Linked DNA regions of Homo sapiens: region 1 is linked to region 2. Evidence: fine-mapped expression QTL. A gene starts in region 2. The other region holds a variant in brackets. All regions are shown on one strand. Distances are between the middles of the regions.

Region 1 (15,341 bases), 29 kb after region 2:
CAGGTGATCTGCCCACCTTGGCCTCCCAAAGTGCTGGGATTACAGGTGTGAGCCACTGTGCCCAGCCTCTTTGTATTGCTCTTGTAACTTTTCTGTAACTGTGAAGTGATCTCCAGGTTAAAAAAAAAATGTACCCCGCATAATCTCACTTATATGTGGAATCTAAAAGAGTGGAACTCGGCTAGGCGCAGTAGCTCCTGCCTGTAATCCCAGCATGTTGGGAGGCCGAGGCAGGAGGATTACTGGAGGCCAGGAGTTTGAGACCAGCCTGGGCAACATAGCAAGATCTCATCTCTAAAAAAAGAAAGAAAGAAACGAAAAGAAAAATATGAACTTGTTAACAATTCTCATTATCTGAGGGAAGAACGAGGATGGCAGGGGACTCTTTAACTACCAATTTTAGTTTGAGCTGCAATTTCCCCCTCATTTAGCATTTTCGGTTTTATTCAAGAAAAAAAAAAGACAAAAATTAGGGTTCAATATCATAAAACATAGAGCAACCCGGAGAAAAGAATTGCCTATTCACATCTATTCTTTTAGCTTTCTTACGTTTTAACCACTTGAGCCGTAACGGGGTGTGAGGGGATTTGCGGTGATGGAACTGTTCTGTGTTTTGGTTACGGGGTGGTCACGTGATGCGTGCATTTGCCAAAACCTCAGAACTGCACCTAAAAAGGGTGAATTGTGCTGTATGCAAATTATGCCTTTATTTAAAAATGCTAACTAATTTTTTCTCTTTTTTCTCATATTAAGGAGACCGATTTGACAGCCTTTAAATCAAAATCTCTGTGTATAAAACTCTCACTAAAATTATGTCAAGAAATAGACTTGGAAAAAAACTTATATTCCCTGCGACAGAAATAGCGTCAATAATCTTATCATGTAAACCACATAAAAAAGGAACAAAGTTGGATTCCAGTAGGCAAGTGGGCAAAAGACACGGAGAGACGTTTGCAAATCGTAAAGAGAGGGAGTGGCCAACCATCATGGCAGGAAGACGTTCCTGCACACAAGAAATCAAAATCCAACCCCGTCCATCAACAAGCAGGAAACAATCTCACAGGAATCCCCGGGGCGGTGTGGCAGGCCGGCGCAGCCTCTCTCCTGCTCGGTTGTAGGGTTGTCAGGACCTTCTGGGTGACAGAGACAAGATCTTTTCTTTCTTGGGGTCCACTTGTGGGAATCGAGACCAAAGAAAAAATCCTAGGCCAGGCGCGGTGGCTCACGCCTGTAATCCCAGCACTTTGGGAGGCCGAGGCGGGCAGATCACGAGGTCGGGAGATCGAGACCATCCTGGCTAACATGGTGAAACCCCGTCTCTACTAAAAATACAAAACATTAGCCGGGTGTGGCGGTGGGCGCCTGTAGTCCCAGCTACTCGGGAGGCTGAGGCAGGAGAATGGTGTGAACCCGGGTGGCGGAGCTTGCAGTGAGCCGAGATCACGCCACTGCACTCCAGCCTGGGCGACAGAGCGATACTCCGTCTAAAAAAAAAAAAAGAAAGAAAGAAAGAAAGAATCCTAAACACGGACAAAATTTTCATCCCCAAAGGTGTTATTTACAGCACTATTTTTAATGCAAAACAGTTAGGGAGGAAAAAACAACACTTAAATTTGCCAAGAACTGATTGGGTAATAATGCCATAAACCACCGTGAGGTACTATGATTTAAAAAAAGGTTCAGAGCCGGCAGAGCAGCGGTGGTGAGTGGCTGGTAGGAGATGAACATAAAGCTGGGGGCCGGGCACGGTGGCTCAGGCCTGTAATCCCAGCACTTTGCGAGGCTGAGGTGGGTGGATCACCTGAGGTCAGGAGTTCGAGACCAGCCTGGCCAACATGGCAAAACCCCATCTCTACCATAAATACAAAATTATTTGGGTGTGGTTGTGCATGCCTGTAATCCCAGCTACTTTCGAGGCTGAAGCAGGAGACTCGCTTGAACTTGGGAGGCGGAGGTTGCAGTGAGCCGAGATCGTGCCATTGCACTCCAGCCTGGACGACAAAAGAGAAACTCCGTCTCAAAAAAAAAAGGATGAAATCTTGTGCTTTGTGGTAACATGCATGCGGCTGGAGACCATTATCCTCATGGAATTCACGCAGGAACAGAAAACCAAATACCACATGTTCTCACTTATAAGTGAGAGCTTAACATTGGGTACTCATGATGTAAAGATGGAAAAATGGGCACTGGCGACTGCTAGAGACCGGAAAGGGGGAGGCGGCGAGGGTTGAATAACCAACTGTAGGGGACTACGCTCAGTACCTGGGTGGTGGGGTCATTCGTAACCCAAACCTCAGTATCACGTAATATACCCAGGTCGGCCAGGCGTGGTGGCTGACGTCTGTAATCCAAGCACTTTGGGAGGCCGAGGTGGGCGGATCACCTGAGGTAAGAAGTTTGAGACCAGCCTGGACTACGTGGTGAAACCCCGTCTCTACTAAAAATACAAATATCAGCCGGGCGAGGTGTTGTATGCCTGTGGTCCCAGCTACTCGGCAGGCTGAGGCAGGATAATTACTTGAACCCCGGAGGCGGAGGTTGCAGTGAGCCGAGATTGCACCATTGCATTCCAGCCTGGGTGACGGAGCAAGACTCTGTCCACTGCCCCCGCCCCACAAACATACATATATAAATATATAACTATTATATATAAATATATAATATATATCTATTAAATATATAACATATAATATTTATATCTATAAATATATATGAATATTATATATAAATATATAATATTTATATCTATAAATATATATGAATATTATATATAATATATAATATATATCTATTAAATATATATAAATATTATATATAAATATATAATATATATCTATTAAATATATATAAATATTATATATAAATATATAATATATCTATTAAATATATATAAATGTTATATATAAATATATAATATATATCTATGAAATATATAAATATTATATATAAATATATAATATATATCTATTAAATATATATAATATATAATATTTATATCTATAAATATATAACTATTATATATAAATATATAATATATATCTATTATATATAACATTATATATAATATTTATGTCTATAAATATATATAAACATTATATATATATTATATATCTATTAAATATATATAACTATTATATATAATATTCTATATCTATAAATATATATAACTATTTTATATATCTCTCTCTCTCTTTCTCTCTCTCCAGGTCCATGTACCCCCTGAATCTAAAATAAAAGGAGAAAAAAATACCAGAATGGCCACCAAAACAAAGCAAAAAAGGCTGAATGTTGTGTGCAGCAGGAGAAATACATTTAGAATTTCACCATGGGAGGAGGTAATCCCCAAATCCAGGCAGAGCACAGCCTGGGGAGAACAACCGTCATCTCACCAGCTCTCCCCGGTGTTGCCCTTAGAAAAGGAACTGGTTTCATTTTTTAAATTATTATTTGTTTTTGAGATGGAGTCTCACTGTGTCACCCAGGCTGGAGTGCAGTGGCGCAATCTCGGCTCACTGCAACCTCCGCCTCCTGGGTTCAAGTGATTCTCCTGCCTCAGCCTGTCGGGTAGCTGGGACGACAGGTACCCGCCACCACACCTGGCTAATTTTTTGTATTTTTAGTAGAGATGGGGTTCACCATGTTGGCCAGGGTAGTCTCTAACTCCTGACCTCAAGTGATCCGCTGGCCTCAGCCTCCCAAAGTGCTGAGTCACTGCGCCCGGCCTTCACATGCACTCTTTAAAGCAACACCAGGTTGACGTCTACTTGGGTTTCACAAACTATGACCCACCGCCCAGGCCAAATCTGACGCACTGCCTGTTTTGGGGCAGTCGGTGAGCTCATGGTTAAGCAAAATCAAAAGAAGGATAATAATGTTCACGACACACGAAAATGATGTGAAGTTCAAAATTCAGTGTCCATAAATAAAGTTTTATTGGCACAAAGCCCTGCCCACTCCTTTACCTGTTTTTCGTGAATCTTCCGTCATCCCACAACAGCAGAGCCCTCCTACCTCAGCCTCCCAAGTAGCTGGGATTACGGGCATCCGCCACCACACCTGGCTAATTTTTTTTTTGTATTTTTAGTAGAGACGGGGTTTCACCATGTTGTCCAGGCTGGTTTTGAACTCCTGACCTCAAATGATCTGCCTGCCTTGGCCTCCCAAGGTGCTAAAATTACAGGAATGAGCCACCATGCCTGGTAACTGTATTTCTCTTAAAGGGGTCCTTTCTTTTGGAAATTGATGCTGAAATATTTATTTATTTATTTATTTATTTATTGAGACAGAGTTACACTCTGTTGCCCAGGTTGGAGTGCAGTGGTGTAATCTCAACTCACTGCAAACCTCTGCCTCCCGGGTTCAAGCGATTCTCCTGCCTCAGCCTCCTGAGTAGCTGGGGCTACAGGTGTGTACCACCATGCCCGGCTAATTTTTGTATTTTTAGTAAAGATGGGGTTTCACCATGTTGGCAAGGCTGGTCTTGAACTCCTGACCTCAAGTGATCCGCCTGCCTCGGCCTCAGGTGGATCACCTGAGGTCAGGAGTTTGAGACAAGCCTGGCCAATATGGTGAAACCTCGTCTCTACTAAAAATACAAAAATTAGCTGGGCGAGATGACACCCACCTGTAATCCCAGGTACTCGGGAGGCTGAGGCAGGAGAATCGCTTAAATCTGGGAGGTGGAGGTTGCAGTGAGCCAAGATCGCACCATTGTGCTCCAGCCTGGGCGAGAGAGCGAGACTCCAACTCAAAAAATAAAATAAAATAAAATAAGCATTGGATTGCATTTTTTAGGCTGTGTCTTTGTGATACCTTACCCTGTTTTAACCGGAGTGACTGTCTCCTAGCAGAGAGAGCTGGACAGACTCCATTTTGGTTTCTTCACTTGGGGCCCCCCGTATCCCCCTTAAGGGAATAACTAGTGCAAGCTGACACCAAGCACATCCAGGAATGCACCTGCTGATAAGATATTGAGGCAGCCTGTATTAGCAGCTCCTGCTCGGTGGAAGGTACCTAAAAGCCCCTGCATTTATCTCTTAGTGATAGTTTAAGCCCCTGCACCTGGAACTGTTTATTTTTTGTAACTGCTTCCATAACCAATTAATTTTTTAACTTTTTGCCTGTTCTGCTTCTGTAAAACTACTTCAGTTAAACTCCCCCTCCTCTATTTAGACCATAGTATAAAAGAGAATCTAGCCCCTTCTTCGAGATGGAGAGAATTCTAAGCGCTAGCTGTCTCTCAGTCGCTGGCTAATAAAGGACTCCATAATTTGTCTCAAAGTGTGGCATTTCTCTCTAACTCGCTTGGTTACAACATCTTGTCTTTCTGGTGACACCTGTTGACATGATGTGCCTTAGAGTCAGTGAAATGTTACTGCTGAGGCCGCAGCATTCTCCCGAGGGAATAAAGCCATGTGCAGCATAACGAGGTTTCTGTCAATGACAGACTGCACGTCCGACGGTGGCCCCACCGATTATAATGGAGCTAAGACTGCAATTGCCCGGTGATGTTGTCGCTGTCCTAATGGAGTAGCTCAAGGCGTTACTCTAATGTTTGTGCCGATGCTGGTGTACACAGACCTACTTGACTGCCAGTCATAGAAAAGCATAGCACATATAATTGTGTACAGTACATCATACCTGTCAATGGCAACGGGCAGGACATGGTGGCTCGCACCTGTAATCCCAGCACTTTGGGAGGCTGAAGTAGGGCAATCGCTCGAGGCCAGAAGTTCGAGACCAGCCCATGCAACATAGTGAGACCCTGTCTCTACAAAAAAGAAAAAAAAGTCAATAAACAACTATGTTACTGGTGTATATATTTACTATATATAGGTTTCTTTGTTTGTTTTTTGAGATGGAGTCTCGTTCTGTCACCCAGGCTGGCTCACTGCAACCTCTGCCTCCCCAGTTCAAGTGATTCTCCTGCCTCAGCCTCCTGAGTAGCTGGGATTATAGGCATGCACCACCATGCCCGAATACTTTTTGTATTTTTAGTAGAGATGGGGTTTCACTATGTTGGCCAGGCTGGTCTCGAACTCCTGACCTCAAGTGATCCACCCACTTTGGCCTCCCAAAGTGCTGGGAAACAGGTATGAGCCACCACGGCCGGCCTTTATTCACCGTACTATAGTTTTTATTGTTATTTTAGAGTGTACTCCTTTTACTTATAAAGAAAAGTTAACTGCTTGAGTCTAAGAGTTCGAGACCAGCCTGGGCAATATAGTGAGACTTAGTCTCTGCAAAAAAGAAAAAAATGTAAAAATTAGCCCAGTGTGGTGGTGTGTGCCTTAGTTCCCGCTACTCAGGAGGCTGAGGTGGGAGGATCGTTTGAGCCTGAGAGGCATAAGCTGCAGTGAGCTGAGACTGTGCCACTGCATTCCCGCCTGGGTAACAGAGTGGGACCTTGCCTCAAAAAAAAAAAAAAGGAAAGGGAAAAATTAACTGTCAAAACAGCCTCAGGCAGCTCCTTCAGAAGGTGTCCAGAAAAAAGCACTGTTATCCTAGGAGACGACAGCTCCAAGGGTGTTATTGCCCCTGAAGATCTTCCAGTGGGATAAGACGTGGAGATGGAAGACAGTGACGTTGATGATCCTGACCCTGCATAGGCCTAGGCTGATGTGTGTGTGTTTGTGTCTTACATTTTTTCTTTTTCTGAGATGGAGTCTTGCTCTGTCACCCAGGCAGGAGTGTAATGGTGTGATCTCGGCTCACTGCAATCTCTGCCTCCTGGGTTGAAGTGATTCTTTTGCCTTAGCCTTCCCAGTAGCTGGAATTACAGCACTTTGGGAGGCCGAGGTGGACGGATCACTGGAGGTCAGGCGTTTTGAGACCAGCCTGGCCAACATGGTGAAAACCCATCTCTACTAAAAATACAAAAATTATCCAGGTGTGGTGGTGCATGCCTGTAATCCCAGCTACTTGGGAGGCTGTGGCAGAAGAATCGCTTGAACCTGGGAGGCGGAGGTTGCAGTGAGTTGAGATTGTGCCATTGCAAATCAGTGTGGGTGACAGAGTGGGACTCCGTCTCAAAAAATAAATAGATGGTCGCATTTGGGCTATGGCCTAGACCCCTGTGCTAGATCATCTGGCACAGGTGTGTAGCAGACTCTCCCACCTAGGTTTGTGTAAGCACACTCTATGATATCTATACAATGATGAAATCACCTAAGGATACATCTCTCAGAATTTATTCCTGATGTTAATCGAAGCAGGACTATAGCAGTATTAATAACGAGACCTAACAATGCTTGAGCACCTACTATGTGCCAAGAAGTTTTTTTTGTTTTGTTCTGTTTTTGTTTTTGATGAATCTCACTCTGTTGCCCAGGCTGGAGTGCAGTAGCTCAATCTCGACCGGCTGCAACCTCCACCTCTGAGGTTCAAGCAATTCGCCTGCCTCAGCCTCCGAAGTAGCTGGGATTACAGGCACCCACCCTGATGTCTGGCTAATTTTTGTATTTTTAGTAGAGACAGGGTTTCGCCATGTTGGCCAGGCTGGTCTTGAACTCCTTGTCTCAGGTAATCCACCCGCCTTGGCCTCCCAAAGTGCTGGGATCACAGGCGTGAGCCACCGAGCCCGGCCGCAAGAAGTTTTAAGTGTTTTGTATCTCTTAACAAATTTCATTAGCACAAAGAGGGCAGAGGAGAATTGGAATGGCCTTGCGGAAAGACCTCCCTGGCACCCGCCTCCTCCTTATGCCCCAAGCCTGCAGCCCCTGGGGCCTATTATTAGGGCCCACATCTGGTGACATTTCCCGGACTGATAGCGATCTCTGAAGCTCTTGCTCAAGGTTCTTTCCTGGAC[G/A]TTTATCTGCTCCAAAACTCACAGCTAGCTTCCTGCCATCAGCCCCCTACCTTTAACGTGGGCTCAAGGCTGGCGGCCACCTGGGACTGACGACAGAGACAGAAAGAGCCCCCTCACCTTGCCTCACCCTCAGACACAGCACAAGGTGACGGGACCGGGATTCGTTGCGGGGTGTGTCTCAGGGAGCCAGGAGGTAGGAGCTTGGGGATTAGGAGAGTTGAAGGGCACTCTCCAGGGTATACAAAAAGGAGGTAGTGGGCTGGGCACAGTGGCTCACCCCTGTAATCCTAGCACTTAGGGAGGCCGAGGCAGGTGGATCACCTGAGGTCAAGAGTTGGAGACCACCCTGGCCAACATAGTGAATCCCCATCTCTACTAAAAATACAAAAACCAGCCGGGTGTGGTGGCAGCTGCCTGTAATCCCAGCTACTTAGGAGGCTGAGGCAGGAGAATTGCTTGAACCCAGGAGACAGAGGTTGCAGTGAGCTGAGATCGTGCCATTGCACTCCGGCCTAGGCAATAGAGTGAGACTCCATCTCAAAAGAAAAAAAAAAAAAGAGGTGGCAAAAAGGGGCTGAAAGTTCTGGGCCACCTCCTCTGGGTGAGGAATGTTCTCATGCCATATGCGTGAACTGTGCCTGGTCAGAGGTATTTGACTGTCTTCATCACTGCGGTACCCCCAGCGCTTAGGATAGTGTCTGGTGTACAATTTGGGCTCAATGCATAATTTTACACTAAATGAATGAATCCATCCTCAGATGACAAAGGAGAGATTGCCCTCCTTAATGGATCACTCATCGATTATTTACCAAGTGCCTGCTGTGTTCCAGGGGCCAGGAGCAAGCCACACACCAGCCTCGCCTCTAGGGAACTCAGAGATGAATAATGCAGATGGGTGATCACCAAATGATCCAACAAACGCGGTCTAATTGCTGCTGCCTGTAACCAGCTCTTTTTTTGTGGGGGCTCGGGGGGAACGGGGGGACAACAGAGTCTTGCTCTATCACCCAGGCTGGAGTGCAGTGGCATGATCACAGTTCTCTCCAAACTCCGCCTCCCGGGTTCAAGCGATTCTCCTGCCTCAGCCTCCCAAGTAGCTGAGATTACAGGCATGCACCACCACACCCAGCTAATTTTTGTATCTTTAGTAGAGATGGGGGTCTCACCATGTTGGCCAGGCTGGTCTCAAACTCCTGACCTCATGCGATCCTCCCACCTTAGCTTCCCAAAGTACTGGTATTACAGGTGTGAGCCACCGTTCCCAGCCTGTAATCATCTCTTCATGGGAGAGAAGCTCCTATAGGAGGGTCTGATTGAAAAGGGCAGGAAAAACTTTGGGGAGAAAGTGAAATTTGCACTGAGATCGCAGGAATGAGTTAAAAAAAAAAAAAAGCAGAGGAAAGAAAAGGTGTTCCAGGCAGAGGGGCAGCACATGCAAAGGCCCTGGGGTGGGAGGGAGATGAGAATCTTGGCAATGGACACAAAGGTAGGGAAGCCGGGATTTGGTGCACAAAGAGGGGGAAGGTGCAAGAGAAGTCTGGAGAGGCTGGCAGGTGCCCCAGCTCTCACCAGTGGTGCCGGGGAGACTCATATTTATCCCACAAGCAATGAAGAGCCACAGTGTAATTTTCCAGTTTGAACTGTATTTTTTTTTTTTTTGAGACAGGGTCTCACTCTGTTGCCCAGGCTGGAGTGCAGTGGCACAGTCATGGTTCACTGCAGCCTCAATCTCCTGAGCTCAAGTGATCCTCGTGCCTCAGCCTCTCGGGTAGCTGGAATTACAATGCAAGCCACACTGTTTGGCCAATTTATTTTTATTTTGTAGAGACAGGGTTTCGCCTTGCCACCTAGACTGGTCCTGAAGCCCTGGCCTCAAGTGATTCTCCTGCCTGGGTCTCCCACAGCGCTGGGGTTACAAGGTTTGGGCTTTCAAAGGATCACTCTAGCTGTAGGGTGGTGAGTGGCTGGTAGGAGATGAATATAAAGCTGAGGGCCAGGCACAGTGGCGCACACCTGTACTCCCAGCACTTTGGGAGGCCGAGGTGCATGAATCACCTGAGGTCAGGAGTTCAAGACCAGCCTGGTCAATATGGTGAAACCCCGTCTCTACTAAAAATATAAAAATTAGCTGGGCATGTCCCCAGGGTGTGTGCCTATAGTCCCAACTACTCTACTCAGGAGGCTGAAGCAGGAGAATTGCTTGAACCCGAGAGGCAGAGGTTGCAGTGAGCCAAGATTGTACCACTGCACTCCAGCTTAGGCAACACAGTGAGATCCTGTCTCAAAAAAAAAAAAAAATGCTGGGGCGCTGTGTGCTTGGATGATAGGGCTGTGGAGACAGGACATAGTGGACAGAGGCAAGAGGCTTTTTGGAGGCAAAATCGACAGGGCTTTGTGATGAATTGGGTGTGCGTGTTGGGGGAGTAGGAGACAGAGGTATTCAAGGATTCTACACCTCTATCTCAGACGAGCATACTGAGGCTCAGGGTGGGGATGGGGGGCAGAAAGCTCTGAACCCAGGATCACACAGTCATAATCCAGCATCTCAACTAGAGCTTCGACCTATGCCTGTCTGCTGTGTAAGCTCAAGCTTTCCTCAACCCCAGACCTCTCTTCTCTGCCTGCACCTCACCCTCGGAGGTCATTTTCAGGTTCAAAGACATAAATAGTATCTAAATTATTTTTGTATTTTTTTGTAGAGACAAGGAAGGTCTTGTCATGTTGTCCAGGCTGACCTGGAACTCCTGGACCCACACAATCTTCCCGCCTCTGTCTCCCAAAGTGCTGGGACTAGAAAAGTGAGCCACTGTGCCCTGCTGGCATCTAAATTCTGACTCCCACATGCCCGTACCCAGCCAGGAACCCCTCTGTAATTTTTTTGTTTTAATTTTGAGACAGAGCCTCACTTTGTCACCCAGACTGGAGTGCTGTGGTGTGATCTTGCCTCACTGTAACCCCCATCTCCTGGGTTCAAGCGATTCCCCTGCCTCAGCCTCCCGAGTAGCTAGGATTACAGGCACCTGCAACCACACCCATCTAATTTTTGTATTTTTAGTAGAGATGGGGTTTTGCCATGTTGGCCAGGCTGGTCTCAAACTCCTGACCTCAGGTGATCCGCCCACCTCGGCCTTCCAAAGTGCTGGGATTACAGGCGTGAGCCACTGTGCTGGGCCCCCTCCTGTAATCTTGCTGCCGGTATCCAGCTGCCTAAGTGAACTTTCCCCGGGATGTCTTACAGGCATTTCAAAGGCGAAGTGACCAACCCGGAGCTCCTGGTCTTACCCCAAACCTGAGCTCCTGGTCTTACCCCAAACCTGCTCTCCTGCAGTCTCCCCCATCCCAGTGCACAGCAACTCCAGCTTCCATCGGTTCAAAAGTCCTGCAGTCACCCCGACACTGCTCTCCCTCTCACCTCACACATCCAGCCCAGCAGCAAATCTAGCCAGCTCCACCTTGACCCTGGAATCTGCTTCCCACCCCCTCCTCTGACATCACCCTGGTCCCCATCCCCATCACTGCCCACCTGGGTTACTGCAGCAGCTTCCTCCCGGCCTCCTGCTTCCATCCCACCCCCTCAGTCTAGTCTCAACCTTAAAGTCACAGTGATTGTTAAGACCTAAGTCAGATATTGTTCCTTCTCTGCTCAACAGTCTCTTGTAACTCCCATCTCACTCACAGGAAAGGCCAGGAGAGTCTGCACTATGACTCACAGGGTCCTGCTCCATCTGTCCGCTTCCCTCTCTGCCTTCACGTCTCACCTCTCTTCCCATTGCCCACGTGGCTCCAGCCACACCGGCCTCCCTGCTGTTCCTTGAGCATTCCAGGCACCGTCCTGCCTCAGGACCTTTGCACAAGCTGCTGGTTCTGCCTGAAGGGCTCTTCCTCCAGATACGTATGTGCCTCACTTTGTCATTTCCTCCAAAACTTTGCTCAAATGTTATATTCTTTTTTTTTTTTTTTGTAATAGTCTCTCCCTGTCTCCCATGCTGTAGTGCAATGGCGTGATCTCGGCTCACTGCAACCTCTGCCTCCCGGGTTAAAGTGATTCTCCTGCCCTAACCTCCCGAGTAGCTGGGATTACATGTGTGTGCTACCACGCCCAGCTAATTTTTTTGTGTTTTTAGTAGAGACGGGGTTTCACCACGTTGGCCAGGATGGTCTTGAACCCTTAATCTCAGGTGATCCTCCCGCCTTGGCATCCCAAAGTGTTGAGATTACAGGCATGAGCCACCGAGCCTGGCCAAATGTTATATTCTTATTGAGGTCTTCCCTGACAACCCCGTTTAATGTACCAGTGTCCCCTTTCTGCTTTCCGTCTTGTCCCTCACATTCTCAATTCTCCTTAACTTGATTTTTTTTTTTTTTTTTTGGAGATGGAGTCTCACTCTGTCGCCGAGGCTGGAGTGCAGTGGCCTGATCTCGGCTCCCTGCAACCTCCAACCTCCCAGGTTCAAGTGATTCTCAGCCTCCCGAATACCTGGGATTACAGGTGTGCACCACCATGCCTGGCTAATTTTTGTATTTTTAGTAGAGACAGGGTTTCGCCCTGTTGAGCAGGCTGGTCTCGAACTCCTGACCTCAGGTGATCTGCCTGCCTTGACCTCCCAAAGTGTTGGGGTTACAGGCGTGAGCCACTGCACCCGGCCAAAAAATTTTTAATTATTTATTTTTTATAGAGACTGGGTCTCACTATGTTGGCCACCTTGGACTGGAACTCCTGACTTCATCCAGTCCTTCTGCTTCAGCCTCACAAAGTGCTGTGATTACAGGCATGACCCTCCACACCTGGCCCCCTCCACTTTACTTATTATTTTTCCATAACACTTGGCAATCTTCTAAAGCAGTATATCATGAATTAATTTATTATATGTATTATACCTGACATCTCCCACTGGGATGTAAGTTCCACGAGGGCTTGTTTTGTTACATGAGTTATCTCTGGTACTTAGAGCAATATTATTGTGTCCAGTGAGCCGAGATCGTGCCATTGCACTGCAGCCTGGGTGACACAGCAAGACTGTGTCTCAAAAAAAAAAAAAAAAAGAAAGAAAGAAAGAAAAAAGAACAGTATTATTGGGTCATAAAAAGCATTCAGGCTGTGCTCAATGTCTCACACTTGTAATCCCAGCACTCTGGGAGGCCAAGGTGGGAGGATCACTTGAAGCCAATAGTTGAAGAGTAGCCTGGGCAACACAGCAAGACCCCATCTCTACAGAAAAGAAAACTAAGGCTAGGCACAGTGGCTCACACCTGCAATCCTAGCATTTTGGAGGCTGAGGTGGGTGGATCATGAGGTCAGGAGTTGGAGACCAGCCTGGCCAAAATCATAAAACCCCGTCTCTACTAAAAACACAAAAATTAGCCAGGCGTGGTGGCGTGTGCATGTAGTTCCAGCTACTTGGGAGGCTGAGGCGGGAGAATTGCTTGAACCTGGTAGGTGGAGGTTGCAGTGAGCCGAGATCAGGCCACTGCACTCCAGCCTGGGAGACAGAGCAAGACTGCATCTCAAAAAAAATAAATAAATAAAAAAAATTAAAAAAATTAGCCAGGCATGGTGGTAAGTGCCTGTAGTCCCAGCTACTCCAGGAAGCTGAGGTGGGAGGATCTCTTGAGCCTAGGAAGTGGAGGCTGCAGTGATCTATGATTGTACCATTGCACTCCAGCCTGGGTGACAGAATGTGACCCTGTCTCAAAAAGAATAATAATAATAATCATTCCATAAAAAGTATCAAATGGAGAAATAAATCATCAGTGGGGTCTCGGAGGGGACCAGGGGCTGCAGTGACAGGCAACCTGGGGCCCTGACACAGGGTCATTCCTGTTCCAGGAAGATGAATGCTTCCAGATGCCTGTCTGAGGAAGTGGGGTCCCTCCGCCCTCTAACCATGGCTGTCCTGTCTGCCTCCTTTGTCGTCGGAGTGCTGGGCAATGGGCTGGTGCCGTGGGTGACTGTCTTCCGCATGGCCCGCACAGTCTCCACCGTCTGCTTCTTCCACCTGGCCCTTGCCGATTTCATGCTCTCACTGTCTCTGCCCATCCTCGTGTACTATATTGTCTCCAGGCAGTGGCTCCTTGGAGAGTGGGCCTGCAAACTCTACACCGGTTTTGTGTTCCTCACCTTCTCCACCAGTAACTGCCTCCTGGTCCTCATCTCTGTGGACCGTTGCATCTCTGTCCTCTACCCCGTCTGGGCCCTGAACCACCGCACTGAGCAGAGGGCGAGCTGGCTGGCCTTCGGGGTGTGGCTCCTGGCCGCCGCCTTGTGCTCTGCGCACCTGAAATTCCGGACAACCAGAAAATGGAATGGCTGTATGCAGTGCTACTTACAGTTCAACTTGGAGAATGAGACTGCCCAGATGTGGACTCAGGAGGTCTTTGGGAGACAAATGGCGGTGATCATGGCCCACTTCCTGCTGGGCTTCCTGGGGCCCTTAGCAATCATAGGCACCTGCGCCCACCTCATCCGGGCCAAGCTCTTGCGGGAGGGCTGGGTCCATGCCAACCGGCCCAAGAGGCTGCTGCTGGTGCTGGTGAGCGCTTTATCTGCTGGTTCCCATTTAACGTGATGCTGTTGGTCCATCTGTGGCGACGGGTGATGCTCAAGGAATTCTACCACCCCCAGATGCTGCTCATCCTCCAGGCTAGCTTTGCCTTGGGCTGTGTCAACAACTGCCTCAACCCGTTCCTCTACGTCTTCGTTGGCAGAGATTTCCAAGAAAAGTTTTTCCAGTCTTTGACTTCTGCCCTGGCGAGGGCGTTTGGAGAGGAGGAGTTTCTGTCATCCCGTCCCCGTGGCAACGCCCCCCGGGAATGATGGAAGACTTCAGCTGGAAGCTGGAAGCCGTCCTTCTTAGTTTGCTTGTGGCCTCTTACCTTGACTGGCTTCTAAAACCCTGCCAAATCCTGCCTCTTCTTTCAGGAAGTCTTCCGGCAACCCCTCATCTAAAGCTCTGTGGTAGAGACAGCTACTTACTCCCCAGTGTCCATTCTTCCCTTTCTTTTTATCTTTTTCCTTTTTTATTTTTTGGAGACAGAGTCTTATTTTGTCACCCAGGCTGGAGCGCAGTGGCACAGTCTTGGCTCACTGCAGCCTTGACCTCCAGGGCTCAAGCCATCCTCCTGCCTCAGCACCCCCGCCCCCCACCCCCAAATAGCTGGGACTACAGGCATGTGCCACCAAGCCTGGCTAATTTGTAGAGATGGGGTTTCATCATTTTGCCCAGGATGGTCTCAAGCTCCTGAGTTCAAATGATCCTCCAGCCTTGGCCCCCCAAAATGCTGGGATTACAGGTGTGAGCCACAGCGCCTGGCCTCCCCTTTGCTTGTAGTAAGACTCCTGTTTGTTTCAAACGAGGCACATGCTTAACTAGAAAAGAAAAAAAAGACTACATTTCCCAGAATCCTTTGCATGTCGTACAGCCATGTGACTGCTTCTGGCCAATAAAATGTAAGTGGCAGCAATCAATGTAACTTCCTTGAAGAGCCATTAAATGGAAGAGGCCTGTCCTCCATTTCCCCATCTCCCCCTTTCTAT
Region 2 (15,341 bases):
AGCTGGTCAGAAGCAGAACAGATGGTAATTTGAACTCAGGACTCTCTGACTTCCCTGTGATGCTTAGAAGGTCTGGACTCGCACACTGGGTGCCCCCTCGTTAAGGTTTCGAGTGTGTTAAAAAGTGGGTGGGGGGCAGATGTGTTTTAGGGCATGCCTTCTCTTATCAGTGAAGGAGTTGGGGAAGCTTCACCTCCAGGTAGGGGACCCCCTTCTCAAAGGACTGGGGGTACTCCCGCAGCAGCCTCTCCTCCTCCAGGAAGTTGGCATCGCGGCCGGAGGTGGCCGGTTGGAACAGGCCATAGTTGAGCACATCCTGCAGGCTCTCGCTCAGGGCACAGAGCACCTGCTGCTTGGCCGTCCAGATGGTGGCATCGGGGTTGAAGCGAAGGCATTTCTGGTTGGGGAAGAGATAGGGGCTAGGGTGGGCCAGGGGCCAGAGGAGAGCCTGAGGTGGGTTGGGAAGTGAGCCAGGAGCTGAGTGTGGGGGTGATTCCTGGGAGGATACCCAGCACCAGTGGACTCCCCATGTCGGTTGGGGCACTGTCCCTCTCCTGCCGCTGGCCAGTGGGCAGGTACTCACTGTCTGGTGCAGGTCCGGGATGCCAATCCTGAAGACCATCATGCTGAAGTGGGCGTCGTCTGGGACGGACATTGAGCGGCCCTGGAGGCCTCTAACAGAGGCCAGGCTACCAGGTGCCCCACTGCCCTGGCCCCGGGTCCCCCGGGGGCCTCGACCTGGCCCGTCTGGGGAGCTGTCGGACTCTGAGCCCCCCTCGGGACACTCGCTGGCACTGTGGCGTTCCTCGTCCTCGCTTGTCGCGGGGCTGTGGGTCATTGTGGGGCCACGGGGCGACGGGGGACGGCAGCATCACAGGCGGCTGCAGGGGCCAAGGGCGGCCATCAGACTAGGAGCCCGGGACCCCTCAGAGGCCGCAGGCGCTATTCGGTGGTCAAGCGGTCAAGGGCAGCCTACCCCCACTGCCCAAGATAGGCAGGAAGGAGGCTGGACACACCCTCGGCCTGCACGGCCTCCCCTGCCGCCTCCTCCCACGCTGGCACGCACACACCCCTGTCCCTGACATGCTTCTGGCATGTGTCTCCTTCCCTGCCCTTGGCCCCGCTTGCAGCCCGCCCCCTGCGCCCCACTTTGCTGGTGACCCAGCGTGGCCGTGTCCCAGAAACCGCAGAATCACCGCGGGAGCTACTGGCCCACTTTGCCAGGCCACAGAAAATGCAGCTAAAATTAGCTAAGGACAGACAGGTGGACAAACTGACAGGCATCCTGCCCTCCTGGCCCCAGCCTGGCCCCTCATCCCAGGGCCGGGGGGTGGGGTTGGGGAGAAGCTGAGGCTGACACTGAGATGTAGTAAGGGGGAGAGGGAGGTGTGGTGAGCCTGGAGCGGGTGGAGCTGGTGACTTCACTCAAGTGTGGCTGACAACGCGTGGCATGCCGAATAGTGCTGGGGAATCTGCCGTCCCAGGGGAGCAAGGGGCACTGAGATGGGGGTGTCATGGGCAGAGCATTTGGCCTAGGGTGTCCCCAAGGGAACCACAAGAGGTGGCTTTTGGAGACTGGGGCATCTTGAGAGGGTGTGCGGGTAGGTGGGGAGGTCGGCCTGGGGAGTGCTGTCCAGGTGACAGTGGTGTGGTGGCCCGGGTAGATGTGGGTGGCTGCAGATGACCTGTAGCTCTTTTCTAGGACTGCAGGGTGGGTGGGCTGGCTTGCTGGGTACTAGGGGCTCCACTCTGAGGACTGGGGGTGTTAGGAGGGAGGCTAAGAAGTGAGAGGAGGGTCTGGGGAACTGAGTGGGGGATCATCTCTAGATCCTTGCTGTTCTCCCTTGAGGTGGCCTTATGAGGGTGGAGCCCCTTCCAAATGGGGTCCGCCTCCCTTCTGTTCTCCCCCAACTCCCACCCCAGCACCGGAAACCAGAATGTCTGGTCTGGTCCCTCCCCCCAACACCAGGCCCGGTTCCTGCACCGTTGCCATGGAGATGGGAAGCAGTGGAGGGTACTGCTGACTTTGGGGGAGTGGGGATGGGCTGGGGGGTTGGGAAAGGGAAGACTAAATGTGTGTGGTGGGAGGAGAGTTCCAGGAGGTGTGGGCGAGCGAGCCTCTAACCCAGGGCCGGCGGACCCCTCCCCCACGCGCGGCAGCGCTGCGAAGCCCCCTCCCCCTCCAGGTACCCAGCCACGCCGCCCCACCTCGTCCCTGCGGAGACCCCGGCTGCCTCCTCCCTGCCCCGCCGCACAGCCCACCTCGCGATCTGGGGCCCGCAGACACTCCCCCTCGGCTGACCCTGGCTGACCCCCAGCCTCAACCCCGCTCGGAGGGGGTGGCCGGTGGGATGAAAGAAAAGCTGGCTAGGGCCCCCCGCGCGTACGGCTGCCCCAGCCCCCCCGGGCCGGCTCCGGCCCCTCCCCCTCAGGGCTCGCGGGAGGGAGCGGGCACGCTCCGCCGGGGCGGCATGAATCAAACGCTCCGCGGCTAAGAATAGCTGGCACGCAGCTGGTACCGAGACGGGCTGAGGAATCGGCGAGGGGGGTGGTGGAGGACGCGAGAGAGGGGGTGCCCTGGGAGGCTGTGGGGGGACAGGGGGCGGCTGGCGTGGCCGAGAGCGGGGCCGGGGAGAATGAATGGAGGCGGAGGGAGGCGGGGAGGGGCGGGGAGAGAGAGCCGGAGCCGAGGCTGGGAAACTGGTGGGGGAGAACCCGGCCGGGGAGAGGGGCGGGGGGCACCGGGGAGCAGGAGTCGGGGGCGGGAGCCGAGGGGGCGCGCCGGCCGGCGGTGTAGGGACTGGAGACCTGGTGGGGACGCAGGGAGCTTGGACAGGGGTGGAAAGGGACTGGAGGAGCCTGGAAGGAGAAGCGGGAGCTGGAGGGGTCGAAAGGGGCGGAGGAGGCCCGGGCCTAGACCCTCGCTGGAGGGGAGTGGGGACCAGGGTGACCTGGCGGAGGGGCCCAGGTACGCCAGGGAGGGCGAGGCGGGGGAGTGGCCGGGCTGGGCGGGGAGGCGGGTACCAGGACCGAGCCCTTGGCCCCGGAGAGCCGGGAGGCGGGTTCGGGATAGGGGCTCTGCTGGCCGGGGGTGGGGGGCGCGCCCTCCCATCAAGGATGCGATCTGGGACGGGGCACCGGGGACCCGGGCGTAACCCAATTTGGTGTCGCCCAGGGCAACGCTCCCCACCTCACCCGTACCCCCAGCCGCACACCCAGGCCAGGAGCCCGGCGCCGGGCCAAGGACATCCGGGGCGCCCTCGCCCCCTCCCGCGGCCCCGGCCCCGCAGCTGCCCCAAACCCCCAGGTTCTCGACCCCCTTACCTGCCTGGCGGGGCTGCTGAGTCCCGGTCGGCGGCGCCCGCGGCCCCTCCCCCCTCCCCCCACCCCCCACCCCCCCGGAGACGGGGACCCTCAGGCCATGCCCCACCGCCCCGGAGGGCGAGCGGGCCCGGGGAGGGGGCGGGCGGGGACCGGGGGGGAGGGCGGGAGGGCCGAGGACCTCACCCCCCCCGCGGGCCGGGCCTGGCCATCCGCAGAGCGCCCCCCCTTCCGCCGCGGCCGCCGCGCCCCTCCTCGCCCGCCCCCGGCTCGGTCCGGCCGGCTCCGGGCGCCGCGTCTCCGCCTGCTCTTCCTCCTCCTCTTCCTCGGGCCGCCGCCGCCGCCGCCCGCTCCGCGCCTCCTCTGCCACCCTTCTCGCTCTCTCGCTCTCGCTGTCTCTCCCTCACCCTGTCTCTCTCCCTCCCTCTCTCCCTCCCTCCCCTCCCTCCGCCCTCTCCCCTCCCTCCGGGAGCCGGCGGAGGAGACATCGCCCCTCCCCGCGCCCCCAAACCTCGCCCATCCCCCACCACCGCCGGCTCCGCCCCCTACCCTTGCCCTCCCCCACCACTCCTCCCCACCTCCGAGTCCCCAAATCCTGACTCCGCCCCTGCTTGCTCCCATACCCCGAGGAAGGGGTCCTGCCCCCATAAGGTGCCCCCCCACACACACCTCAGGACCACCCCCTCCCAGAGAGCTCCCCGCCGCCCTACACAGAGTGGGGCACAATAAATATTTGTTGCCAGACTCTACACCCCCAAATTTAAGTGTGAAGGCTATAGATTCCCACCCTGTCCCCCCAAACACACACACACCCTTTCCATTTAAGCACTGGGTCAGGGCACACGTGGACATACCTGGGCCAGGCCACATTTCCCCAAGGCACAGGTGCATAGTCACCAGCTGTAACGGCACCTGCAGAGTCCCCACATACACACACTCTCCAGCGCATGCATGCCCAGACACAATGCACCTGGGGTACACAGCTACAAACACACCCAGCTACATGCAGTTGTCACACCCCTGTGCCCGGGCACACACGCAGCACATGCACACATTTGCCCACCACACACGCACGTGCGCGCGCACACACGCACACAGGCGTTCACCCCGGTATGCATGCCCAGATCTCTCAACACCAAAACGGAGTTACAGCACTGTAGAGACGTGTGCACGCCTTCCCATCACACCCACCCACCGTGCTGTCCATTGCACTGGCTCGCACTCACCCGTTTACATGCCCAACACCGTGCCATCCTTCCCCTCCAGGATAGTTACTGCTGACATTCCTGGAGCACTTTCTGTGTGCCAGGCTCAGGGACTTTCGCCATCCCCATTTTCCAGAGGGGGAAACCAAGGAACAGAGAGGCTAAGTAACTTGCCCAAGGTCATCCAGCTGTAAGGAGGTGGTAACAAGGATCAGGAACAGGTAGGCTGGCTCCAAAGTCCTCACTTGACAACTATGGTGCACTACTGGGCATATCCCCTCATAGTTGCATATCCTTATTCATCACACACAGACACACCCAACCGTCTCCTCAGAGTTTGCACATGTCTGTGTAGGCACGCATATGCAGCCAGCTGCAGGCAGACAGCTCATTCATGCCTGGGACGCACCCACAGGGACAGAGCAGATCCCACAGGGCAGCAGTGAGTGGTGAGTGTCCCCTTAGCCCAGGCTTCCTCATTCTCCCAGCTCCAACAGCACCTCCAGGGCCTGCAGGGGGCAGTTCTAGGCAGCTTCTGGGTTCCCCTCCAGCTGCAGGCTCTCCGGGGTACCCGAGTATGAGCTGGAGGAGGTGCCTGCTCAGCCTGGGGAGGCCTCTATCTTGATGCGTACCCACTAGCCCAGGTGGTGAGCAGCTGGGCCCGGGGAAAGCACAGCTGCCCATGTTGGCTCCAGCAGCCAGAGAGGCTGTGCACCCCTGCACACTTTACAAGGCCTTTCCCCACATACGCATTATTTCTTGAGGTCTGTAGCTCCTGGTGAGGGGCCCCAGGTTCCCGATGGGCACCTGAGAGGCCCAGGCTCTGAGGCAGGGAGCAGTCTGCCCAAGGTCACAGTGCCCTCGATGTACCAGGATTTCTTGGAAAACGGAAGGCTGGAGGCACTGATTTCCAAGGCCCCTCCTGGGGCTCCCGGCAGCCGAGGGCAGATGCCCTGCTCTTGGAGCCAGAAACCTTGGCTAGCTGCCGCCACACTGGTGACCTCCAGCAGGCTATGCTGTTTCAGAGCCTCGGTCTCCTCCTTTGAAGAGCAGGCCCAGTGATCCTTGGCTGGTGTGCCCCATGCTTGTTGGCACCACCAGCCAGGCCTGGGCGGGAAAAGCCCTGCATGACTCATGGGCCTGACATAGAGGGGCATGGCATGGCATTGTTCTTCCTTGCCTCCAAGCCTCTCTCCCACTGCCCTCACCACCTCTACCTACCCTGCCACCACCACCCTGGGAACTTGGGTGCCAGCAAACCAAAGAGGTGAAGCTTCCAGGCCTTTGACCCCACCAGGAACGGCTACCCTCTCGCCCACTCAACAGGTTGATTGAACACCTACTATGTGCTAGGTAGGCCTTGTGCTAGGAGATGCATCAGTGCATAAAAATCCCTGCTTTCATTGGCAGGGAACAGACATAAACAAACAAGATCATGCCAGTCTTGATTATACCAAAAAGATGAAATGGGGCATTTTAATAAAGTAACTTGCGGAATAGATAAGGTGGTTGGGGAAGACCTCCTGGAGCTGAGACCTCGATGATGAGAAGGAGCTGGGGAAAGAGGCTTCTAGAAGGAGGAAAGGGCTAGTGCAAATGCTCTGAGGTTGTAATCAGCTTAGTATTTGGGGATGAGCCAAGAGGCCAGGGAAGGTGGAGGCTGGGGGTGGGTGAAGGGAATGGGGGTGATGAGGCTGCAGAGGTGCAAAGGGTTCTTCCTTCCCAGCCCCCAGCATGGTAGGCTGCGCTGAGGACTGAGGCCCGGGCTTGGCTTCCCTCCTGCTTATGATGGGAAGGTGGGGGAGCAGGGGAGTGGGGAGTGATGTGATCTGATTTATGGTTTGGAAGGATTGCTTTGGCTGCGGCAAGCAGCCGGGATTGGAGGGGCTCAGGAGGAAGGAGGGGGAGGGCGAGACTGCAGTGGTCCAGGCTGAAATGAGGTGGCTTGCTGAATGCTCAGAGCTCCTTGAGCACACAACCTAGCGTCTGTCGATTTCACCTCCTGGAGAAACCTTCCCTGACTGCTCCGCCAGACTCCTCACCCTCTCCCATCTCCAGCCCCCTCATCCCCGGAGCTATCTGGCTGCTGGTCTGCAAGCAGCTGGAGTCCCCAGCATCACCCAGCCCACAGCCTGGCCTGCAGGAGGCTTCTAGTAAAGTGGCCAATTAATCCCCGAGCCCCGTCTTCCAGGGTCATGCACACAGTCACACGCGTGCTCTTCACATGTGTCACCCTGCCCCCACACACACTCACTTGGATCTCCAGACAAGGGCTTGGAGGGTAGGATGGGCAATCTAGGGGGCAGGAGGGGCCCTGGAGTCTCCTCCATTGAGTGTGCAGGCGATGGTGGCCACAGGGTAATAACAACCTCAGCGAGACCCTGAGGTCTGCCCCTCCTTAGGAATGGCCAGGCAGGGAAGAAGGGAGCAGTGCTCGGTCCCAGCATCCCACCACTGCCGAGATGGTTCTGAGCGGGTTCCTGGGCTGAGGCCGGGGCCTGTGTTTTCCAAGATTCCTTGGAGAGCCAGCTCCATCCTCTTCCTGATTATCTGATCTTTGGGCTACAGCAGAAGGAAAGAGCAGGGCGGAAGCGAGCTCTGGAAAGTGGAAAGAGGAGGGTGTGCGAGGAGACCCAAGGCGGGATCTAGGCTTTGGAACGTTGGAGGTTTCCGGCCACAGAGGCAGGGCCTCCGGGGAGCCAAGAGGGGCGGGGAGAGACACACACAGAGAAGCAGAGGAGACCAACGGACCGGACAGAGACGAGGAGAGGAACAGGAAGAGAGAAGCTGGGAGAATCGGGAACCTGGGGGCTAGTGACCTGCACACAGGGCAGGGGCACTCGGCAGTTCCCAGAGGCCACCCCTCCCACCCCAGACATCCAGACATCTGGAACTTTGGGTGCCAAGAGTCCAGCTTAATGCAGGCAGCCTGGCTTTTGGGGGCTTTGGTGGTCCCCCAGCTCTTGGGCTTTGGCCATGGGGCTCGGGGAGCAGAGAGGGAGTGGGAGGGAGGCTGGGGAGGTGCCCAGGAGGAGGAGCGGGAGAGGGAGGCCCTGATGCTGAAGGTGAGCTCTGGAGTGTCAGGGAGCTATGGGTGGTGAACTGTGGGTCTGGGAGGGGGTATTGCAAGGTTAGGGAAATGGACAATGAGGAGCGATTGGGATAGTCTCAGAGGAGTGGGAGGGTGATGGGCTCAGAGACAGGACTCAGGCAGCAGAGAATGAGTTATGAGTTGGAAAGGGGTGAATGGGGCATCTTGGTGGCAGGCTGGGGCTCACCACCCCTCCCCTGCCCCAGCATCTGCAGGAAGCCCTAGGACTGCCTGCTGGGAGGGGGGATGAGAATCCTGCCGGAACTGTTGAGGGAAAAGAGGACTGGGAGATGGAGGAGGACCAGGGGGAGGAAGAGGAGGAGGAAGCAACGCCAACCCCATCCTCCGGCCCCAGCCCCTCTCCCACCCCTGAGGACATCGTCACTTACATCCGTGAGTAACCAGAAGCCCTCACCCCCAAACTCCTAGGCCGCCGCGGTCACTTTCGCAAAAATGAAGGGTCGGTTCACTGCCAAGTGGCCTTTCAGTTGTCCATTGCCCAGCCCAGAGCCCCCACACCCCTAGGAGCCCCAGGTCCACGGCCATGCCTCCTAAAGGCCTGGGCCACTCGACCCTACCTTCCAGGAGTCCGGGGTGCCCCCCCCACCGCCACCCCGCCCTCAGGAGCCCTAGATCCCAGTTCTCCAGGTCCTCAGGCCCCCCGCTGCATCTCCAGGCTCCCCCTCCAGCATGATCCCTGTCTGTCCGCAGTGGGCCGCCTGGCCGGCCTGGACGCAGGCCTGCACCAGCTGCACGTCCGTCTGCACGCGTTGGACACCCGCGTGGTCGAGCTGACCCAGGGGCTGCGGCAGCTGCGGAACGCGGCAGGCGACACCCGCGATGCCGTGCAAGCCCTGCAGGAGGCGCAGGGTCGCGCCGAGCGCGAGCACGGCCGCTTGGAGGGTGAGTCCGCGGCGCGCGGGGTGGAAAAAAATGAGACTATCTGGGCCAGGAATGGGACTGGTTGAGAAGGTGACCCTAGGTGTCCGGGGCGGGAGAGTTCGGGAGAGCTGCTGTGTGCTAGCGGACGGGGTTAGAGAGCTGGGAGGCTGAATGCAGGGAGCGGGTGGGCACTCCAGACCCGCGCGGACCCGACTGGGGCAGCACCACGCCCCCTACAGTCCAGCTCCCACCGCCTGGCCCCGCCCCTGGCGGACCAGACTCTCCACCTCCTGGCTCCCGCGGTTCTGACCACGCCTCCTCCCAGCCCTCCCCATGAGTTCCTGGCCCCGCCTCCCTCCACCCCCGGATGTTTTGTCCTCGCCCCCTTCCAGACTCTGAATGCATGACCCCGCCTCCTTCTCTACCCGGCCCCGCCCACAGGCTGCCTGAAGGGGCTGCGCCTGGGCCACAAGTGCTTCCTGCTCTCGCGCGACTTCGAAGCTCAGGCGGCGGCGCAGGCGCGGTGCACGGCGCGGGGCGGGAGCCTGGCGCAGCCGGCAGACCGCCAGCAGATGGAGGCGCTCACTCGGTACCTGCGCGCGGCGCTCGCTCCCTACAACTGGCCCGTGTGGCTGGGCGTGCACGATCGGCGCGCCGAGGGCCTCTACCTCTTCGAAAACGGCCAGCGCGTGTCCTTCTTCGCCTGGCATCGCTCACCCCGCCCCGAGCTCGGCGCCCAGCCCAGCGCCTCGCCGCATCCGCTCAGCCCGGACCAGCCCAACGGTGGCACGCTCGAGAACTGCGTGGCGCAGGCCTCTGACGACGGCTCCTGGTGGGACCACGACTGCCAGCGGCGTCTCTACTACGTCTGCGAGTTCCCCTTCTAGCGGGGCCGGTACCCCGCCTCCCTGCCCATCCCACCACCCGGCCTTTCCCTGCGCCGTGCCCACCCTCCTCCGGAATCTCCCTTCCCTTCCTGGCCACGAATGGCAGCGTCCTCCCCGACCCCCAGTCTGGGCGCTTCTGGGAGGGCTCTTGCGGTGCCGGCACTCCTCCTTGTTAGTGTCTTTCCTTGAAGGGGCGGGCACCAGGCTAGGTCCGGTGCCAATAAATCCTTGTGGAATCTGACTTGAGGGGCAGTGAAGGCAGTCTTGGACTTTATCTCCTGCAGGGGAAGCCGGGAAGGGCCAGACCCTGGTCTTTGGGCGCGTGTCCTGGCCTTTGGATGCCTGTTCTGCTTTTTACAGATGTCATTTGAGCCCCAGATGGAGTGATGGAGAAACACAGGTGCATATGTACACACGGTCATCTGTTCTGTGCACAGATGGCCGGAGTACACGCGTACAAACGCTGTAGACACCTTCACCTCCATCGTGCCCTCTCTCTCGGCCTTTGGGACCCAGGGCCTGCCAGTTGTCCCAGGCCTTGGTCTTGGTCCTGGTCAAAGAGATTTGGGAAACGTGAAGGGGCTAAAGGCTCTGACAAGTCCGGCAGGAAAGAGCCCGTTTAATTTGTTTAAGTGGCGTGTCCAATTTGTTTCCCCAGATGATATGGTTTCATGGACTTGTTGGGATGATATATTGAGACATGGACTTAAGGACTCACCCAACCCTGAAGCTTAGACTTCCTCCCAATTTTCCCTCCTCTGCTTCCTGCCAGTGAGGCCAGGAGCCAGTCCCTTCCCCTCTGTGAGCCTCGGGTTTTTCATCTGAACGTGGGCACAATCCCTCCTACTTTGTGCGGCTCTTGGGATGTTCAGGTGAGACCAGGACAGTGTGCATTTGGTGGTGGCTGAACTTGAGCCACACACTACCTTCCGTCCTCACCTTTTTTTTTCCTTTTTTGAGACACGGTCTTGCTCTTTCGCCCAGGCTGGAGTGCAGTGGTACAATCATGGCTTACTGCAGCCTCAATCTTCTGGGTTCAAGCAGTCCTCCCACCTTAGCCCCCCAAGTAGCTGGGACTACAGGCACGCCCCACCACACCTGGCTAATTTTTGTATTTTTTTATAGAGGTTGGTTTTCGCCACGTTGCTCAGGCTGGTCTTGAACTCCTGAGCTCAAGCAATCTGCCCTCCTGGGCCTCCCAAAGGGCTGGGAATACAGGCATGAGCCACAGTGCCTGGCTCTCCCTCACCATTTTTCATACCTTTACTCCCTGGGGGCAGTGAAGACACCCAGGAGTCCGCCAGCCGGGGCCTCAGCATAGTGGCCAGCTCTGTCTAGAGGAGAGGCTCTTTGGAAATCACCCTAGTACCTCCCCCAAGGTTGGCATCATGGGCGTGACCCTGACATCAGGGAGCCTAGGAATGGGGATGTGACCCTGTCTGTCCTTACCACTCTGCCCCTTCCCTTCCTTCAGCCATTGCACCACTGCCTAAAGGGTGACCATTGGATCCACACATGGGAGGAGCAAGCCATCACTGTCAGCTTGGATAGAGGGGAGATCACCCACCCTTCTCCCTTCAGGAGACATTTCTCAGCCCCACATCCCCAGAGGAATACAGAATAGGAGAGTGGGGGTGTGGCCTGGAGTCAGCCTTCCATCAGAAATTCTTCTCATGCTGAGCTTCAGTTTCCCCGGGGAGGGATAGGCAGCCCTAGATCTTATAGCCAACCAGAGGTCAGATTAGGCAGACAATGATGAGTATCTATTATTTCCCAGAGGGGTCTCTGCCCTGGCAGAGCTTCCATTCTGGAAAGTATTTGGGCATGGTACACCATGGCTACCCGCCCAGATTCTAGAGCCAGATGGCCCAGGTTCCAATCCTACCTCAGCCACTTATCTCCTGGGAGAACCTGAGTGAGACATAACCTTGCTACTTCTCAGTGTCTCCATCTGTACTGTGGGGATAATAACAGTATTGATCTAGAATAGTACCAGACACAGAGGGGTCTTTGCAGTTCCCAGATCTGAGCTTCACCAGGGCAATTCAACCTCACCTTCATCTCTCTGTACTCTCTCCTGACACTGTGCTTTTGTATATGCAAAGATCTCCATCCTCCCTCCTCTCTAGGGTAAACACCCACTTCCAAGAATTGGATAACACATCACCCCAACAACCAGCCCTTCCCCCAGCCCCTTGCGGGGTTAGGGATCCCCTTTGGTATCCACAAACCCCTTGTTCCTCTCTTGACCCAGCCCTGATCAGACAGGCTGAGGGACACTCCAGGTGCGTGGGGGAGGGCAGGACAAGGTATGACTATCTCTGTCCCCAGCATCGCCTGGCATATGGGAGCCCTTTGAATGAAGATGCTTGTGTGGCATCATGCAGGGGACCCTGAGATGAGTCGGATCTCGGCTGCTTTTCCTCCCTGGCCTCCCCAAGGCTGGGTGAGGCACCTTCTCTAGTTTCCCGTAGGGTCCAGGGCTTTCCACATCACTTTAGGTGCCACTGTCTGGTCTGACAGACAATGTCTGTCTCCCTGGCAGGGCCTGGAGCTATCATACCAAGCACAGGGCCAGCTGTGGGCATGCAGAGAGAGAGGTCTGAAGTGGGGAGTGGCGTGCCTGCAAGGACGGTTTATGCATCAGAACAGCACGCCTATATGTGGCATTCGGCGCTGATTCCTGACTCTGGTCTGCGTGGGAAACCTACTCTCTCCTCCAGGAAGCCCCCCCAGACTTCCTGCGGGCCAGAGTTTGCCAATGTCCTCTCCCTGGCTCTCTGCGGAGCGCTGGTAGTGTGCAAGGCCAGAGCCATGGACCAGGGGAGGCCTCGGCAGCTGATTGGAATAGATGCATTAAGGGATCCCAGGGAAGTAGTAGAACAAGGGCAGGAGGCCTGGGATGATTCGACGGAGGAGGAAGAACCAGCGGCCGCACGGGCTTGCAGGGCGATAAAGCCCAGGAGGCCGAGCAGCAGGCGCATCACCGCCTTACCAGCACCACGTTTTTCCGCAGTAACCGGATGACTCCTACGGGTCACCTCGCAAGCCCCGCCCCCTCCTCCCATGTGAGGTTCGCCTGCCTTTCCCCGCAAGCCTGAGGGCCACGCCTTGGCGGTGAGGTCGGAGCTCCGCAGTCTCCAATCAGAGCTCAGACCCCTCCTCTCCACCCAGGCCTCGCCCCGAGGTACTCTGGAAAATGTAGTCCTGTCACGCGCCCACGGGTAGGAAAACCCCAAGTCGCGAAGCCTTAACATTCAACTCACGTTTGGATCTCTCAGACGAGAGTTTTTCAAAACAGGTGCATTTCCTTGGGTAGATCATAACCACTTTTTAAAAAGTGAAAAAAGTTCGTATGAAATATTAGTATCATAGAAAATGGTAAGACGCTTTTCAAAATTTAAACGTCGATATGCTGAATTAACAATATAAAATTCAATATAAAATTTCTTTGTGGCTAACCACTGGTCCAAACCAACTTAGTTTCTTTCTTTTCTATTTATTTTCAGGTTCTGTTTTTTTTTTTTTTTTTTTGAGACAGAGTCTCACTCTGTCGCCCAGGCTGGAGAGCAGTAGTGGCACAATCATAGCTCACTGCAGCCTCGACCTCCTGAGCTAAAGCAATCCTCCCGCCTCAGTTTCCTGAGTAGCTGGGACTACAGGCGTGCACCTTAAAAATAAACAAAAACAAAAAACAAAAAAACCAGACAATTTTAATTTGGAAATAATTTTAAACTTATAGATAACCTACACAAATATAAACACTGGAGTACAAACAAATCCTCTACTCTGATTTGTTTGTTAACAGTTTACCTCATTGCTTTGGCTTCATCATTCCATCTATCCATCCATCCACCCACCCACCCACCCATCCTAGCCCAATCATCAGGGACAAGCAAGACAAAGTCAGGTTTGTTGACCCACTGAAATGAGAGCGATCAGCCCCCAGAGGAGAAGCTGCAATCAAGTTATAGGATTTGGAAGAAGAGAGAAATTTGGATGAAATTTAAGTGAAACAATGTTTAGCTAGGTTTAGAACAAGGTAGGAATGTGTATAAGGGAGTCAGCATCAGGCCTGGGCCGCATACAGTAGCTCATGTCTGTATCCCAGTGCTTTGGGAGGCCAAGACAAGAGGATCGCTTGAACCCAGGAGTTCAAGACCCGCTTGGGTGACATCTCTATGGAAGGAAGGGAGGGAGGGGAGGGAGGGGAGAAAAGGGGAGGGGAGTGAGGGGGGGAGGGAAGGGGAGGAGAAAATTATCTGGGTGTGGTGGCACACGCCTGTAGTCCCAGCCACTTGGGAGGCTGAGGTGGGAGGATTGCTTGGGCCCAGGAGTTTGAGGTTGCAGTGAGCTATGATTGTATCACTGTATTCCAGTCTGGGTGACAGAACGAGATCCTGTCTCAAAAAAAAAAAAAAAAAAAAGGAAATATCAGATTTGGACTGCAAAGTGGACCTAAGGTCTTGTTTCCCTGGAAACTACAATGTTAATATAAATGTGGCATGCTGTGCCCAGAAACTTTTTATTTAAAACTCTGCACCAGGGCTGGAAATGGAGGCTTCTTATCTTTGTCAAAGTGACAGATCTTCCAGGAAAGAAAGATGAGTCTGTTTCATTCTTACGGATAGACTTTCATACCGCAGAGTTTCCCACAGTCTATGATTTTAGAGAACAAAGTTTCTCAGTGAGTAAGATAGCAGTAGTCGCTCATAAAGGGGGCTGTTAGAACACTTTTACTGCTGCAGCTCGCCCCTGGGTGAAATGTGTCCTGTTAACCTTGCGGTTGGCTTTATCTCAGTCTATAGATGAAGGGCAGGCCAGATTTTTATAGTATTAGCTGGCTTTAGCTCATATATATATATATATAATTTTTCTTTTCTTTTGCTGCCTTTCTTTTTCTTTCTTTCTCTCTCCCATCTTTCTTTCCTTTTTCTTTTGTCTTTTTTTTTTTTTTTTTTTTTGAGATGGAGTTTTGCTCTGTCATTCAGGCTGAAGAACCATGGTGCAATCTCGGCTCACTGCAATCTCCACTTCCTCAGTTCAAACAATTCTCCTGCCGCAGCCTCCTGAGTAGCTGGGACTACAGGTGCCTGCCACCACACCTGGCTAATTTTTGTATTTTTAGTAGAGACAAGGTTTCGCCATGTTGGCCAGGCTGGTCTTGAACTCCTGACCTCAGGTGATCCACCCGCCTCGGCCCCCCAAAGTGCTGGGATTACAGTTGTGAGCCACCGCGCCCAGCCAGTTGTCATGTCTCTTTAGCCTCCTTGAATCTGGAACATTTCCATATTTATAATATTGACATTTTGGTGGCCGGGCGTGGTGGCTCACGCCTGTAATTGCAGCAGGTTGGGAGGCCGAGGCGGGTGGATCACGAGGTCAGGAGATCGAGACCGTCCTGGCTAACATGGTGAAACCCCATCTTTACTAAAAATACAAAAAATTAGCCGGGTGTGGTTGCAGGCGCCTGTAGTCCCAGCTACTCGGGAGCCTGAGACAGGAAAATGGCGTGAACCCAGGAGGCAGAGCTTGCAGTGAGCCGAGATCACGCCACTGCACTCCAGCCTGGGCAACAGAGCAAGACTCCGTCTAAAAAAAAATTTTATATATATATATGCACACACATTTTGGAAGAACAGCTCCTTGCCCTTTTAAAAATAGAAGTTCCACATTTTTAGTCGGTCTGATGTTTCCCCATGATGATTAGATTCAAGTTATACATTCTCCACCAGAATAATGAGGTGAGGTGTGTACTTCTTTGAAGGTATCCCATCTGGACATAGTCAGTGTCCTACTGTGCCTCATTAGTGAAGTGAGTTTTCATCACCCAGCGAGCTGATGTCCCATTCCCCAGCTCTATAATACTCCTTTGCAGCTAATAAGCAGTCCAGGGGCAGATACTTTAAGACAGGCAGTATCTGCCTTTCATCAAAATTTCCCCCTTGATTTCGC

What was found. PIP is the estimated chance that this variant, and not a neighbour inherited with it, causes the effect.
Region 1: its variant is fine-mapped to the expression of CLEC11A in whole blood (INTERVAL, PIP above 0.99).

What each region holds. Positions count from the first base shown.
Region 1 is chr19:50,744,820-50,760,160 of GRCh38, forward strand. It overlaps the pseudogene GPR32P1. Among named protein-coding and RNA genes, the nearest start is that of GPR32, 18 kb to the right of the region's middle. The variant G/A (reference allele first, on the strand shown) is at 7,808.
Region 2 is chr19:50,716,082-50,731,422 of GRCh38, forward strand. CLEC11A (C-type lectin domain containing 11A) reads left to right here and starts at 7,283. Exons shown (of 4, transcript NM_002975.3): 1 at 7,283-7,591; 2 at 7,824-8,010; 3 at 8,329-8,520; 4 at 8,941-9,627. The coding sequence starts at 7,445. The coding sequence ends at 9,386. It overlaps SHANK1 (SH3 and multiple ankyrin repeat domains 1), which reads right to left and starts at 3,721. Exons shown (of 24, transcript NM_016148.5): 1 at 3,325-3,721; 2 at 584-881; 3 at 194-397. The coding sequence starts at 838. RefSeq lists silencers at 8,632-8,751, 8,792-8,851 and a cis regulatory region at 12,071-12,790.